Linked DNA regions of Homo sapiens. The protein of the gene in region 1 interacts with the protein of each later gene in a pairwise test. Each region holds a gene or a part of one and is shown in the gene's direction. Other genes may lie near its edges.

Region 1 (7,428 bases):
GCATTAACTCATTAGATTCCAAACAGTCCTGTGAAGTAAGTACCATTTTCTGAATTTACAGATAAGGAAAGTGAAGCTTGTGGAGGTCATTTGCTCAAGGTTACGTGGATGATGGATTCTAGAACAGGGAGAGAGGTCTGTCTGCCAGGCTTAAATTCAGGAGGTGGAAGTGGGTTCCGGCCTATTCAGGGAATGACTAGTGGGCCCGTATGCATGAAGCACAGAACTGAGGGAAAGTTTAGGGCAGTTTCTCAAGTTTGCTGAATCACTGGGGGCACTTGTTTAAAATAGAGATTTCCAGGCCCCTCTCCTGGAGATTCTGATCCTGTTGATGTGGAGCAGGGCCTCAAAATCTGTATAACAAGCTCCAGTTGATTCTTTTGAATAGACAAGTTGATCAGCTTGATTAACTTACGATGTAACATGGAATAAACCATTTAATTCTGAATTGGTGTTCAATTGTTTGTAGAATTGGAGAAAAAAATTTAAAAGAAGCTACACAGTTTGGACTTTGTTCTCTATTTAAGGAGGTGCCATGCAAGGTTTATGAGGCAGGGTATGAAACTACTAGATGCTTACAAAAAAAAATTGATGAAAAATTTGTAGGAAGAAAATGTGATATTTTCCTAAAATTTGTAAATGTCCTTTTTTAATTTCTTATTTTATTTTTTACTTCCAATAAGTTGCTTTTAAAACAAGGAAAGGTTAACTTATTAAAGAGGTAACTAAAGCACTTTTTATTTTGAAATGGAATCTTAAATCATTTCTAATGTTTAAGATTGTGGTGAAAGTAAGCATATATATTTTACCATGAAACTCAAAATAATGAGTATAGGGACTCCAGCTTTTTAAAATAATATTGTTTCTCTGATTTTAAAAGTAATACATTTTTTGTTGGATCTCAATGCTAATGGAAATATTTGTTTCCCTTCCTTCCTGTCTCCACTTTCTTCAAACTTCCGACCCCATTACTTCCTCCATCACGTTCAGCTGGCAAGGTTGCAGCCTACTTACCAGACGATAAACACTGTCACATGGAGACTGCCTCAGCTTCCTGCCTGAAACTGGCAAGTCACCATCCACACCAGCACCCTTCTTTGGCTCTTTCTTCTAGTTTTAGGGAAGAGGTGTCCAGGGAGGTCATATCCCTCCTTCTGTGCCTTGGATGCTATCCCCTCCTACCACCTCAAGGACCTCCTGTTACCAGAAAGGGGTCCCAATCCAGACCCCAAGAGAGTTCTTGGACCTTACCCAAGAAAGAATTCGGGGCAAGTTCATAGAGTAAATTGAACGCAAGTTTATTAAGAAAGTAAAGGAAAAAAGAAGGGCTACTCCATAGGCAAAGCAGCGGCATGGGCTGCTTGACTGAGTATACTTATAGTTATTTCTTGATTATATGCTAAACAAGGGGTGGATTATTCATGAGTTTTCTGGGAAAGGGGGAGTAGTACCCAGAACTGAGGGGTCTTCCCTTTTTTAGAATATATTAGATAACTTCCTGACATTGCCATGGCGTTTGTAAACTGTCATGATGCTGATGGGAGTGTCTTTTAGCAACTAATGCTCATTATCCTCACTGCTCACTGTACTCTAATTATGATTCGCGTATAGTGAGCAGTGAGGATGACCAGAGGTCACTTTTGTAGCCATCTTGGTTTTGGTAAGTTTTGGCTGGCTTCTTTACCGCAGCCTGTTTTATCAGCAAGGTCTTTGTGACCTGTATCTTGTGCCGACCTCCTATCTTGTCCTGTGACTAAGAATGCCTAACCTCCTGAGTAGCAGCCCAGTAGGTCTCAGCCTTATTTTACCCAGCCCCTATTCAAGATGGAGTCGCTCTGGTTCAAATGCCTCTGACACTCCTTTTGCCCATTACCCCTTTACAAACTCCTCCTCCTGTTCTTCAACTTTAGTAACATATAGACCTCTTTTAAGGAAAAACTATTGTGGATTTCCATGGATGACTTAAGTTTTTTAATTATAATTTTAAATAAATGAGGTATAATCTGTGCTTTATAGCTCCTATATAAGATGAAAACAATTTTATGAATTAATACAAATAAATTACAAAATGTAATCGCTGTTATAACACTATAAAAACACATTTAGAAATTAAAACAAAACCATAAAACCTAGGAAATTCAAATGTATATAGTTTAATGTACATTTGTACATGTAATATACAAATTCAAATGTACATAGTTTAATGTATATTTGTACATGTAATGTACAGTTAATGTAAATACAACTAAACTTCAGCTTAAAAGTATAAGCTGCATACTGCAGCTTGTTTGGCTGTGAGGAAGGTAAAATATACTATCCTGGCCATTTAAGTTTAATACACTTGAAAAACAGCAAGTGCCTTTGTGCTGCTTCTTAAAAGCAACAGATGAAGCTCCCATGTGAAAGACACCCTCCCTATACTAGAAAAATGTAACATTCTTATTCTCAAGGGCATAGAAGTGAAACCAAGAGAATTCTGTACAGACCTTGTTAAAATAACTTATCTTTTAAGCTTCCCAATTTAGTTTAGTTGCTTCTTCACAACTAACTATTCTTTGTCCAATCCAGTATATAAGTTAACTGACTCTAACTGCTTCTTTGGGTCTTCATTTCTTTATGAGGGCTCCCCTGCCATGTAAAACTTGGATTCTAGAGCAAGGAGAGAGGTCTGTCTGCCAGGCTCAAATTTGCGAGGTGGGAGTGGGTTCCAGCCTATTCAGGGAATGGCCAGTTGGCCTGTATAGATGAAGCACAGAACTGAGAGAAAATTTAGGGCAGTTCCCCAAGTTTGCTGAATCACAGGGGGCACTTGTTTGAAATAGAGATTTCCAGGCCCCTCCACTGGAGATTCTGATCCTGTTGATGTGGAGCAGGGCCTCAACATCTGTATAACAAGTTCCAGTTGCTTTTCTTTTGTTAATCTATTTTAGGTAAGTTTAATTCTCAGGCCCAGCTGGGACCCTAAGAAGATGGAGGTAGAGTTTTTCTGCCCCTGCAACAGCTACAATTCAGGTTCCTTTGAGTTCTCCATGCATATACCCATACCGGCCATGTGATGACTCATCTCCCATTACTCTTTCTCTGTTGGAACCATGCCATAATAACAATATAAATTAATACTTCCTCTAAGAAATTTGTCATGGCCCCACGTATACTACTTTGGTTTTTTCTGGATATTCCATTAGAACCTTGTATTTATTGTAATACTTATCACTATGTTATAATTGCCCATTAGAGAATCCCCAGCACCCAGCCTTTTAGATCATAAAATAACATTATATCCTTTTTTTACACGCTGCAACATGAACATTTCCCCCATGCTTTACTCTTTGAACACATTCTAGTTAAAATCATAATCATCATATTTTATATATATTTAACTTTTCCCCCATTATTTGACATTTTAAGATTGCTTTCAGCTTTTCACTTTTACAAATTTTATAAATTTGCATCCTTTCTCAGAGTAGATATCTAATAGTTGAATTACTGGGTTCTGAGGGAGGAAATTTCATGTAATGGTTATTGACTTAGGTTCATTTCTTGGTTGACTTTGTTGACTGCTAGCCATGTAACCATTAGTAAGATGCATAACTTCTCTAAAGCTTAGTTTCCTTATTTAATATAGAGAAAATATTTACTTCATAGTATGTGAATGCTCAGCATTGTATATGAATAAAGTGAGCAGAGCCAAGGCTGACTCTCAATCAATGCTAGCTGTTATTTTTGTACTTAAAAAATACTTGATATAGGTATTCATAAATAACAGGTAGATTTTACCTGTTTACACTTCCAACTTTAATAATGAGAACACTTAATTAGATTATAAAATTTTGAGTTAGAAAATGAACATGAAGTTGATTCCACAGGATTGCCACTCATTTGTGGCACTCTACAATACCCACTTGGGATAACCGTGAAAATGTTTGCAATTGCGAAACAATATGAAACCCATAAAACAATGGAGCGTATTTACATTAACACCTAGATCGCGTTGCTTAAAAGCGTCCATTACTTGCACGGATGAGGTCCTAAGGAAAGGTAAAGTGCGGTTTCCTTCACCTCGAAGGAAATCCAGGCTGACCGACAGCTGTTAGGCATTAGAAACACAGGACAAAGAGCAAACTGGATATCCAGCACTGGAAGAAAAAGGTGAGAAGCCCAGTGCATCTCCGCCTGTTTTAACAGGTTATGCTGCTCTAAGGAATTGCGTTCCGGAGAGCGTAAGCGGTGAAGTTTTAGCTATTTCTATCCTTCCAACTGAGAAGCCCTCCTGGAAGTTTCAGCCCATTGGCTGCTTTCTGTTCTCCCTGTTTCTTCTGGGAAGCTTCTCCGTCTCCCTGGCAACGCGACCTGCCACCAATTGCAGCTAAGGATTGGTGGTCACATGGCCTCTGCCCCTTCCCAAGCAGAGGCAACATGGCGGCCTTAGCAAGCTATAGCTGCGAGATTTGAATTACTCCACTCGTAGCTATTGCATTCCTGACGATGGCCTCTGTGGCTTCGTGCGATTCGCGTCCGAGCTCAGACGAGCTCCCTGGAGACCCCTCTTCACAAGAAGAAGATGAGGACTATGATTTTGAAGATCGGGTCAGCGACTCGGGTTCATATTCCTCAGCGAGTAGCGATTATGAGTAAGGTTTTCAAAGAGGGACAATTAATCCCATCCCATCAATCCAGAGAATATACACGTGGGCTGGGGGAACTGCAAGGGTGTTGGCGTGGTTGGAATCGAGTATTTGGGGTTCTATAATAAGTGGGATTTAATTGCACCACGTTCCATTGTATGGTGGTGTGAGCAGAAATGACGATGCCATTCTTTGCTACTGTAGGTTGTTTTTTGTTTGTTTTGTTTTGTTTTTTCAATGATTCTTAGATGAGGAGAATCTCCTCTTTTTGGTCATGGGCTCTGTCTAGGCCATAGGAGGATATATCTGTAACAGCGTTCAAAAAACTCTGTTTCGATCGCAGTGTCTTGATTCTTTGGTGTGACCTTTGTGGCTTAATCTCTTTAGTATTTGGAGTGGAGAGACACCCTACGCGTTTTATAAGGCAGTTGTTAAATTTATGTAGATTTTTTCTGTTATGGAAATGAATAGCTATATAACAGAAGGAACGCCCACCCATAGTCTCACCATCAAGGACAACCTCTCAGCACTTCTGGATATTTCTGCTGTATTTTCCTATGCATCTCCATGATTTTCTTGTTTTCCATTTTACGTCATAATTTAATTTTTAAAAATACAGATACCTAAAGGTTTCACTTTCTTAATAATGCCATGAAAAGGTTATTTTGATTCACAGTATTCAGTGCTACTTCATTTTTAAGAAAAATCTACCCCTTACTGCTATGGATTAAGAACTTTAGAAAAGTCAACTAGCAGTAGCTTGAAGAGAATGACTAATCGTGAAAAAGTTTTGGTGCCAAAATGTCAACTAACCCAGTAATGGACAACCATACCTGGTCAGTTTTAGGATGACATTTTATGTGTATTTAGGAACAACAGTTACAAATCATTTATATGTATGTAGGAGCAACTGTTATTTGGCAATTGTTTTTACCTATCAGTATGTAAAAGATTTTTATCATTGCCTTTAAAAGTATGGTGGGGAAACCTGTTTAATACATTCTTGAAGACTTAAACAAATTTTAAAATATCGTATTTTTTTGTAATCTGCTGTAGGCATTAAAAAAATAATTTTAAAATTCATGATTATTACACAAGGCTGCTGGAAGGAAATATGAATTACATAGAACCTTATTTGGTCTTGGTATGTGAAGCCATAGACAGTGTAAGACTCAAACTCTTGGCTTCTCCACATTTTAGAGTCGCATACTTTTAGCCCAGAAAGAATCTATGATTCATGTATAGTTGCACAGCTGAGTGTTGTCAGTGTGAGAATTCAAGACGCCTGATACCTAATGGGCCACCATGACTTTGATGGGATTAAAATAGTGAACTTTGTTTCCTAGGAAATGACCAATCTGAGGACCTTGTGATAGGAGAACTTGTCACTTAAAAGAATAAAAGTATTTCATGATTCAAAATACATGTATGTATGTTATATTTTAGCTTTTAAAAAATGATCATTAAGCTTTTCACATGTCACTAATCACGCCACATGTTCTAGTGTCTTTATCCTCCTAATAATAAAAGTATAGAAAATCCCTATCATAAGATGTTTTGCTGGTCTGTATTTCAAGTCCTACCAAGTTTCAAATTTTAAGTCTGTCCCTTCTTGATTTGTAGGACATGAGGGTTAATTTGCTGAACTTACCAGGAAGGCTTATGTTCGGTTCTTCCCTTATGGTAGATGTTTACTTCCCTAAGCTGCAGTCATCATTACAAACAGTGGCCTTCCCAACTTGTACAGAACCACTCTTTAATCAAAGGCACAGGAATGCCAACCTTAGTCTTTCTCATTAAAGCAAAGACATGAATTTCCTATTGTATTTCATGGACTACGTGAAGCTTACTAAGGAAGTTGTACTGCATATTGACTCACATAAAGTATCCTGAATTTTCAAGGTTTTAGTTAACTGCGTGTTCTTTTTAGAAGTTACTGTTTCATACATGCTTTGTACCTGAGCTGTATGTGATTGTCAATATAGAATTTAAAAGTTTATCATCTTGGAGATAAAATTACATTATGGTAAATTCTGGTAGAGTTCTTTTAATAGGTTTGTTTTAGGTTTGTTAGAGAATAAGAGTTTATATTGCTGCAGTATGTCTTAAGTTGACACATGGGCACATACCCTGGGAGGCTTCCGAGATAATACTGGTGGGTTGGTTGGGTTGAGGGAGCCATTAGCTAGTTTTAGCATTAAGATAACAGAAATCACACATTCACCTGCAACAATGCCAAGTTACCAGCTAATATGCCTAGTTCATGTTACAGAGAGTTTGTCAATGTTGTGACTTGGATTTTTAATTTTTCAAAGTGAATTTTTTGTTGTTGTTACATCAGTTTTAAAACTGGCTGATGGAGAGAAACAGGAATCATTTTAAATGAGATATTAGCTGTTAAAGCTAAGGAACTTCCACCTAAAACACAAGGATTGGCTGGAGAAGGGAGGTATGTCCTTTAAATTTTTTTCTGGGACTTTAAAAATAGCTTCATTGAAGGATAATTTATATACAAAAAACTGCACATATTTTTAATGTACAATTTGATGTTTTAACATGTATACGTCTGTCAAGAAAATGAACATATCCATCTCGCCTAAGAGTCTCCCCATGTACCTACTTAAGTCCATTTATGCCTCTCCTGATAACCATTTATCTGCTTTTTGTCACTCTATAGGAGTTTGTAGTTTCTAAAGTTTCATAAAGATGGAATTGTGCAGTATGAATGTTCTTTTTTGTCTGCCTTCTTTTATTCAGCATAATTACTTTGAGATTCATCCATGTTGTTGCCCCCATTAATAGT
Region 2 (7,036 bases), on another chromosome or scaffold:
GCATTAGACCTGAATTCATATCCTATCCTAGTCCTGCCTCTTATTCCTGTGTATCCTGGTGAAGTTACTCAATTTTTCTGAATTTTGCTGTTTTTATAACTGCAAAAGATAGTGCTGGTGGTGATGATGATAATGACAGTGATTTTCCAGGAATGATGTAAAAATTGACTATAAAACCTATGGAATTACTTAGCCCCTTTGATAGGCATTCTGTGAATGTTAATTTCCACTACCTGTTCATTTCATCGTTTGCTATCATTTCACTGAGTCTAAGCTATCCCAACTTGCTTTCAGAGCTTTTCTCTACCACGGCTCTCCTCTCCTGTATATTCATATACTCCAACATGCTCTTCTTCTTGATATTCTGTGAACACTCTTGCATCAGTGCCTTTGCGCTTGCTGTTTCCTCAGCTTCAAAAGATCTTTCACAGATGTCCAAATTGTTGGTTCCCTAGTTCCCTGGAGAGAGACCTGTTCTAACCACTGTGTGTACATTATTCACCTCATCTGCCATCATTTTCTATTTCCTTTACCCTGATGTGTTTGTCTTCATAAAATGTATCCTGGGTGTGTAGAATACATAGTAGGAGCTCAATACATATGTGACTGAATAAATGAATGGCATGATCATTTCTTTTGTGATCTTTAATTCAGCTGGAAGTTAAGTGTAGGTATATGGGCATGTTTTTCCATAAAGGGAATCCATAGTGGAATCTGAACTTGATTGTTTTTAGATTTAGTTTTAATTTAATAATTGCCTACTGTATGCTAGGCATCGTAGACTTTTAAATTTTTCTCATATTGTGATCTGTTTCGCTCAGGTGATGTCTTTTTTTCTTAGAAAGAACAAAGTTGAAGCTTTCAAATTTTGTTACATTGTTCCTTTTTGAGATATCTCTGAAAAGTCAGGAAAAACCATGATATTAATGTCCTCAGTCTTATGCACCTGTGTTTATAGGATGTTCTACTTAATAACTTTTCTTTCATTATTTTTCAGGCATTTAGACTTTTTTGAAATGCTCCGAAATGAAGATGAACTAGAATTTGCCAAAAGATTTGAACTGGTACGTATGCTTACAATTATTCTGGTTTGATTCATCAGTTCACATTATTTCTGTCTGTAATGTGTGTTGTAGAGTCCACATGGACTTTAGGGCAACCTAAAAGCAAACTCAAAGCTCTATTTTGTTTCCTAAGTGGCAGGATTAGCTTCTGTTTGCTTTGAGTTTACTTTACACTGGGGAAACTGAGGAACTTAGATGTTTGATTTGATTTCTTTTTCCTGTGAAATAGGTTCACATAGACACAAAAAGTGCAACTCAGATGTTTGAGCTGACCAGGAAGAGGCTGACACATAGTGAAGCTTACCCGCATTTCATGTCCATCCTGCACCACTGCCTCCAAATGCCTTGTAAGTGTGTTCGTGACTCACATGTGTGCTTCTGAATGTTTGGACATTGTCCTAATGGGTTCTGGCTCCTGCACAGTGCTGATTACATTGGGTGCACACCAGGGATTCCAAGCCTTGGTTTTATGACAGCCAAGTATGTGTGTCTACATGGCTTAAAGGGTGTTACAAAATTTTTTAAATGAAACAAATTAAAATTTTGATTTTAAAAATAAAAAATATGCCTTACAACCTGTTCAGAAAGGGGTAGAGGGTACCTCTCAATCAAATAAATGATCATTGCATGTCAAAATTCCATAACTTTGGGAAGCATTGGTGCAGATGTTATAAACATCTCTGGTTTGGTGGCTTTAAAGGGTGACCACCATTGACAAATATTCATCCTAGCTTAGAAACAACTTGAAGATTTTTTTTCACTATTCTTTTCTTTTTTAGACAAGAGGAGTGGCAACACTGTTCAGTACTGGCTACTACTAGATAGAATTATACAGCAGATAGTTATCCAGAATGACAAAGGACAGGACCCTGACTCCACACCTTTGGAAAACTTTAATATTAAGAATGTCGTACGAATGTAAGTCTCTTCTTATTCTGCTGCTGTGAGATAATGGTGACAATGTAAGATATTTATTTTATCCTACTTCAGAGTAACAGCTGGGAGAGCTGAAATGTTCTAGGGGTCAAATATGAGTTACTGTACACATGCACTATAGCTAAGTAACATCTGGTCTTAAATGGGTTTCAAGCATGCACTGAGGATTTTCTCTGCAGTAGACTATTTTTGTACCTGGGGAGAATGCAGTTAGCAGTGGACCTTTTATATTTTTTGTAATAAATGCTCCTTGAACTCTTACACAGGTTGGTTAATGAAAATGAAGTTAAGCAGTGGAAAGAACAAGCGGAAAAAATGAGAAAAGGTAAATAATGAGGCCCTGATAAGAGGCTGTGTTATTGGTTATTGGGTGACCTTGATTTCCATATATTTTGGAAATTTACATTGATGTTTCTTGTTAGCTTGGTGCAGGCAGCCTTTCTTTTTCCATCTTTTAAGGGCATTTTGCACTGAGTTTCTTAAATTGAGCTATTTTAGTTGTCATACTGATTCTCAAATATTTTATCCTTTTATTATAATCATGTAAATGTTTTGAAAAGCTTATAGCATTTGCTGTTCAGTATTCCTTAAATCAAATTTTCTTAACTACTAATAATTCAAACCCTTCCCCTACTCCGTCATGGCTCTTTAAATCATACTGGGTTTTAAGAAATGTAATAAGGGACTTGAGGAATTATCCAAAATTTTAAAAGAGAAGAACAGGTCACTTGGTTTCTTTTTTTTTTTTTTTTTTTTTTTTGAGATGGAGTCTTGCTCTGTCACCCAGGCTGGAATCAGTGGCGCCATCTCGGCTCACTGCAAGTTCCACCTCCTAAGTTCACGTCATTCTCCTGCCTCAGCCTCCCGAGTAGCTGGGACTACCGGCGCCCGCCATCACATCCGGCTAATTTTTTGTATTTTTATTAGAGATGGGGTTTCACTATGTTAGTCAGGATGGTCTCAATCTCCTGACCTCGTGATCCACCCGCCTTGGCTGCCCAAAGTGCTGGGATTGCAGGCGTGAGCCACCGCGCCCGGCCTACTTGGTTTCAATAACCCAATTCTGTCCATGACCTTGATTTGGTACCAGTTATAAAAAGAGAAGTCATTCAGAAAATCAGTGACCATTGCTGAGATATGTGTTACGAAACATTAGCTGGCCAGCTATTAGTGTGTATTTGAATATGTCTTTGATATTATCTCTTAGTATCAAATGATAGGAGAGACATTTATGTCCATCAGTGTACCAGCCATACAGAGAAATGTATGTAATTTTCCTTCCTGTTTTAAAATATTAACAAATTGAAGTTGGCCTCTTTGTGGAAATAATCATACTGCCAGCTACCATGCTCTCACCATACTGGTTAACTGACTTCCTTTTCCTTGTCCAAGTTATTCACTCACAGCCAATGAAATACAATAGCATTCACCCCAATATTTAATGTGCTGAAAAGCAGGTCCCAGAGATGCCTAAGCATTTCCTTTTCTCTCATCACATTTCCACTGAGCAGAAAAGCAGGGCCATAACTGATATCAGAAAATACCAATTGTGAACTAACTACTGTTATGTTACGAGTTCCTCATATGTATTCAGATTGCTCCCAAATAAGTGACATTGCACATGCATTTTAAAAAATAAATTTCAGAAACTGCTACAAAAATGATAGAAACATTGACTAAAAATCAGGGTAAAGAGATTAAACCAAAGAGAAAATAGTCAATGAGTGGATATTTTAGGAATACACTCTAGAGCATGGAGACTCAAGTGTGCAGGTTGAGGAGAGCACTTAGGATGTAAGCTTTCGAGTCATTCATTCATTCGTTCATTCAGTGAATACCTGTTGAATGCCTGTATGTGTCAGGCACTGTGCTGAGCTCTGGGTCTGAGTCTCAGCTCTCCCCCTTTCTCACTGTGTGGATGGGCTAAGTGATTTCCTCTCTTCTCCCCCAGTCTCGACCTTTGCAACCTGAGGATTAATCCTGACTCACAGCGTGGTTGTGAAGATTAAATGACAAAACAAATATAAGATCATTAGCATAGTGTCTGGCACATACTAGTTGCACAATAAATGATAGCCACTGTTGCAGGATTTAGGTGGCTGAGATGGTACAAAAGAAAATCACCAATGTCAGTGGGAGGAACAGGTTGTTTTAGTGTTTTAAAGTGAAATGATGGGTAGAGTCTAAAAGAGGAAAGATTATAGTTAAATGTTAGTTTTTTTCTAGAAGCTTCAGGTGGCAAAATTGTATTCAAGAGGGCATATTTTGTTAAAATAGTCCAAGGGTAGAAGTGATAAGGAGACAGAAGTTCTGTGGACCTAAAATGTAGAGAATATTTGGGGAGAATTCTCTTTAGGGCAGCACACCCAGGAAGTGCTCAATAAAAGCTTAGTGACTGAATGGTAAATAGATACCATTTGTGGAGAGAGTCATTTAGGCTGGAGCTTCCCAAACCTGGCATACATCAGGATCATCTAAGCCCTGTAGTCGACCTACAAAATAGACTTCTTGGAATAGTGTCTGGGGAGTCTTGAAATGCTGAAAGTTCTCAGGTAATTCTGAGACACAGCCAGCTTCATCAAAAGCTAATGACCAGTGAGAGGAAGGCAAGTTTCTAGTCCTGAAATTGTGAAAGAAGAATGAAATGGAGATAAAAGAAGGAAAATGGGATATAGAGAGGTCATTTTTGGATGTATTTCTGGAGAAGTTAGGGAGGCAACAACAGAGTGGTAGAAGTGGATTGCTGACAAAATCCAGGGATTTTAGTGGCTTGAACTCCTCTCTGTAAACTCTAATTTGGGGGAACTCAGGAGAGAGAAGGTCAGAGACAGAGAAAACAAGAATTTAAATGTGTTAGCAAATTCAGAAATAGAGACCAGCTCTATTAGTATAGCTCGGCCCCAGTGGGTTATACCTCTAGTGGATTTATTGATATAAAAAGAATAGGAATTGGGGACATGTATTTGAAATAAAAATCCGCAGCCTAAACTTTGTTAGTTCTCTTTTCCAAAACTCATCACTCCTTTCAGCAAGCTTGTATTCATTGGCAATGTGAATATGCATTATGCTGAATTGGATGCCCTGTTTTATTATAGCAGGATTGAGGAAGTCAGTAAAACTACAGCTAAGAGTCAATATTTTTCTCCCCTGTGTTACCATGATTTTCGCGTTCTACTGACCCCACTCCCCTTAAGATATTTAATACTGAGATGATAACATTTGCTTTCATATGCCTTAATAATTGTTTACTGAAAGCATAAAATACTTCAAGTAGCCTTCTGAGGGGAGATGGGAGAAGTGATTCCATCTGGGGACAAACCCTGGGTCTGACAGCAGCTCTTCCTCACAGGTGAGACCCTCCCTTCCAGCCCTTCGGCTGGTTGGATGTGAGCTGGCAAACCTAATTCATAAAAGCTGAACTACTCTTTGTCTCACTTCTAATTTGTGAAAAGAGGCCATTTGAATATTTATTTTTTTCCTTGTATTGCTAAAGGACCATTTTAATGACAAGATTCTGAATCAACTACCAAACAGTTACCATTCTCCTCCACAAGAAGTCACTCAAACTTTTGTTCTGTGTTTAGAACTGTGAGTGTAGGCTCTCTTCTTCAGTCTCTTACGTAGTTAATAATAACATTGTTCATCCGAAGCCCACTCCAAGCACAAACATCATTTAGCCTTTGAGTTGCTCCCTTTGATGGAGAAGAGGAATAATATTTACCTAATAAAGATCCTCATAATCTCTGCCATCATCCTCAGTCAATTTTCTTTTAGAGAAAATGCTTCAGCTTTGAAGACTCTCCTGTTTTCATGTCCAATTGTTTTCTCGTGTAGAGCACAATGAGCTACAACAGAAACTGGAAAAGAAAGAACGAGAATGTGATGCTAAGACTCAAGAGAAGGAAGAGATGATGCAGACCTTAAATAAAATGAAAGAGAAACTTGAAAAGGAGACTACTGAGCATAAGCAAGTCAAGCAGCAGGTGGCGGACCTCACAGCACAGCTCCATGAGCTCAGCAGGGTGAGGTCTTCCGCTCAGCTCACGGGCAGCTGCCAAGGCCTCACTGACCCTAGAGCCCCTCACCCTTAAGTAGAGAACTTCATACTGGGGGAATAAAATCTGAAATGGCTCATGATTCATCACAATTAGGAGACTCACTCCCTCTGCTATCATGTAGGCAGCAGAGGCTGTTTGGGGGTGCATTTTTAAATACTGTACAAATCTAAGAGCAAAGGAAATTGCATTAGCTTCTTAAAGTGAAAACTGACTTCATGAAAACCAGACTGTCTGTGATGGTGCAAGAAGTGAGAGAGATATGAATGCATCCCAGACAAGTACTTGAGTGTCAGGTACAAAAGGTTGATGCACTGGAGTCCATAAAGGCCCAAAAGAGTCCATTCGACTTTACCGATCCTTTAAACATTCTCAGAAGGGTGAATTTCTCTATAATAAACATTTTAGGCCAAGTTACAGACTCTTAAATCATTCAATGAATTTACTTCTTCCATTGATCTTTCTTTTCCTATTTTTATCTTTTCAGAGGGCCGTCTGTGCTTCAATCCCAGGTGGACCCTCGCCTGGAGCACCAGGAGGGCCCTTTCCTTCCTCTGTGCCTGGATCTCTCCTTCCTCCCCCACCACCCCCACCTCTACCAGGTGGGATGCTTCCCCCTCCACCGCCTCCCCTCCCTCCAGGTGGCCCTCCTCCTCCCCCAGGGCCTCCTCCCTTAGGGGCAATCATGCCACCTCCTGGTGCTCCAATGGGCCTAGCACTGAAGAAGAAAAGCATTCCTCAGCCCACAAATGCCCTGAAATCCTTCAACTGGTCTAAACTGCCCGAGGTGAGCCATTTGTTCCAGTTTTCCCTTTAATGGATAGCATTAGCAGCTCATTGTGTTATCACTGAAAGGGAAAACAGCCCTGGCTGTTAAATGATTTCATTTTCTAATGTGGACCAAGAGTTCTCACTAGCTCAGATATTTAAGTGATAAAGCTTCTGAAATAAATGACACATTGTTTGAAACCCGTCACTTTG

What was found. The genes of interacting proteins can lie anywhere in the genome.
Region 2: the proteins of INTU (region 1) and DAAM1 interact in binary tests that used the Homo sapiens proteins (3 or more experiments, as listed by UniProt).

The regions. Positions count from the first base shown.
Region 1 is NC_000004.12:127,628,550-127,635,977, forward strand, and holds the start of INTU (protein inturned), read left to right. Parts: upstream 1-4,407; 5' UTR 4,408-4,485; coding exon 4,486-4,631; intron 4,632-7,428. UniProt on the Homo sapiens protein: Plays a key role in ciliogenesis and embryonic development.
Region 2 is NC_000014.9:59,324,667-59,331,702, forward strand, and holds part of DAAM1 (disheveled-associated activator of morphogenesis 1), read left to right. Parts: intron 1-997; coding exon 998-1,064; intron 1,065-1,293; coding exon 1,294-1,411; intron 1,412-1,843; coding exon 1,844-1,982; intron 1,983-2,266; coding exon 2,267-2,325; intron 2,326-5,834; coding exon 5,835-6,022; intron 6,023-6,542; coding exon 6,543-6,842; intron 6,843-7,036. UniProt on the Homo sapiens protein: Binds to disheveled (Dvl) and Rho, and mediates Wnt-induced Dvl-Rho complex formation. May play a role as a scaffolding protein to recruit Rho-GDP and Rho-GEF, thereby enhancing Rho-GTP formation. Can direct nucleation and elongation of new actin filaments.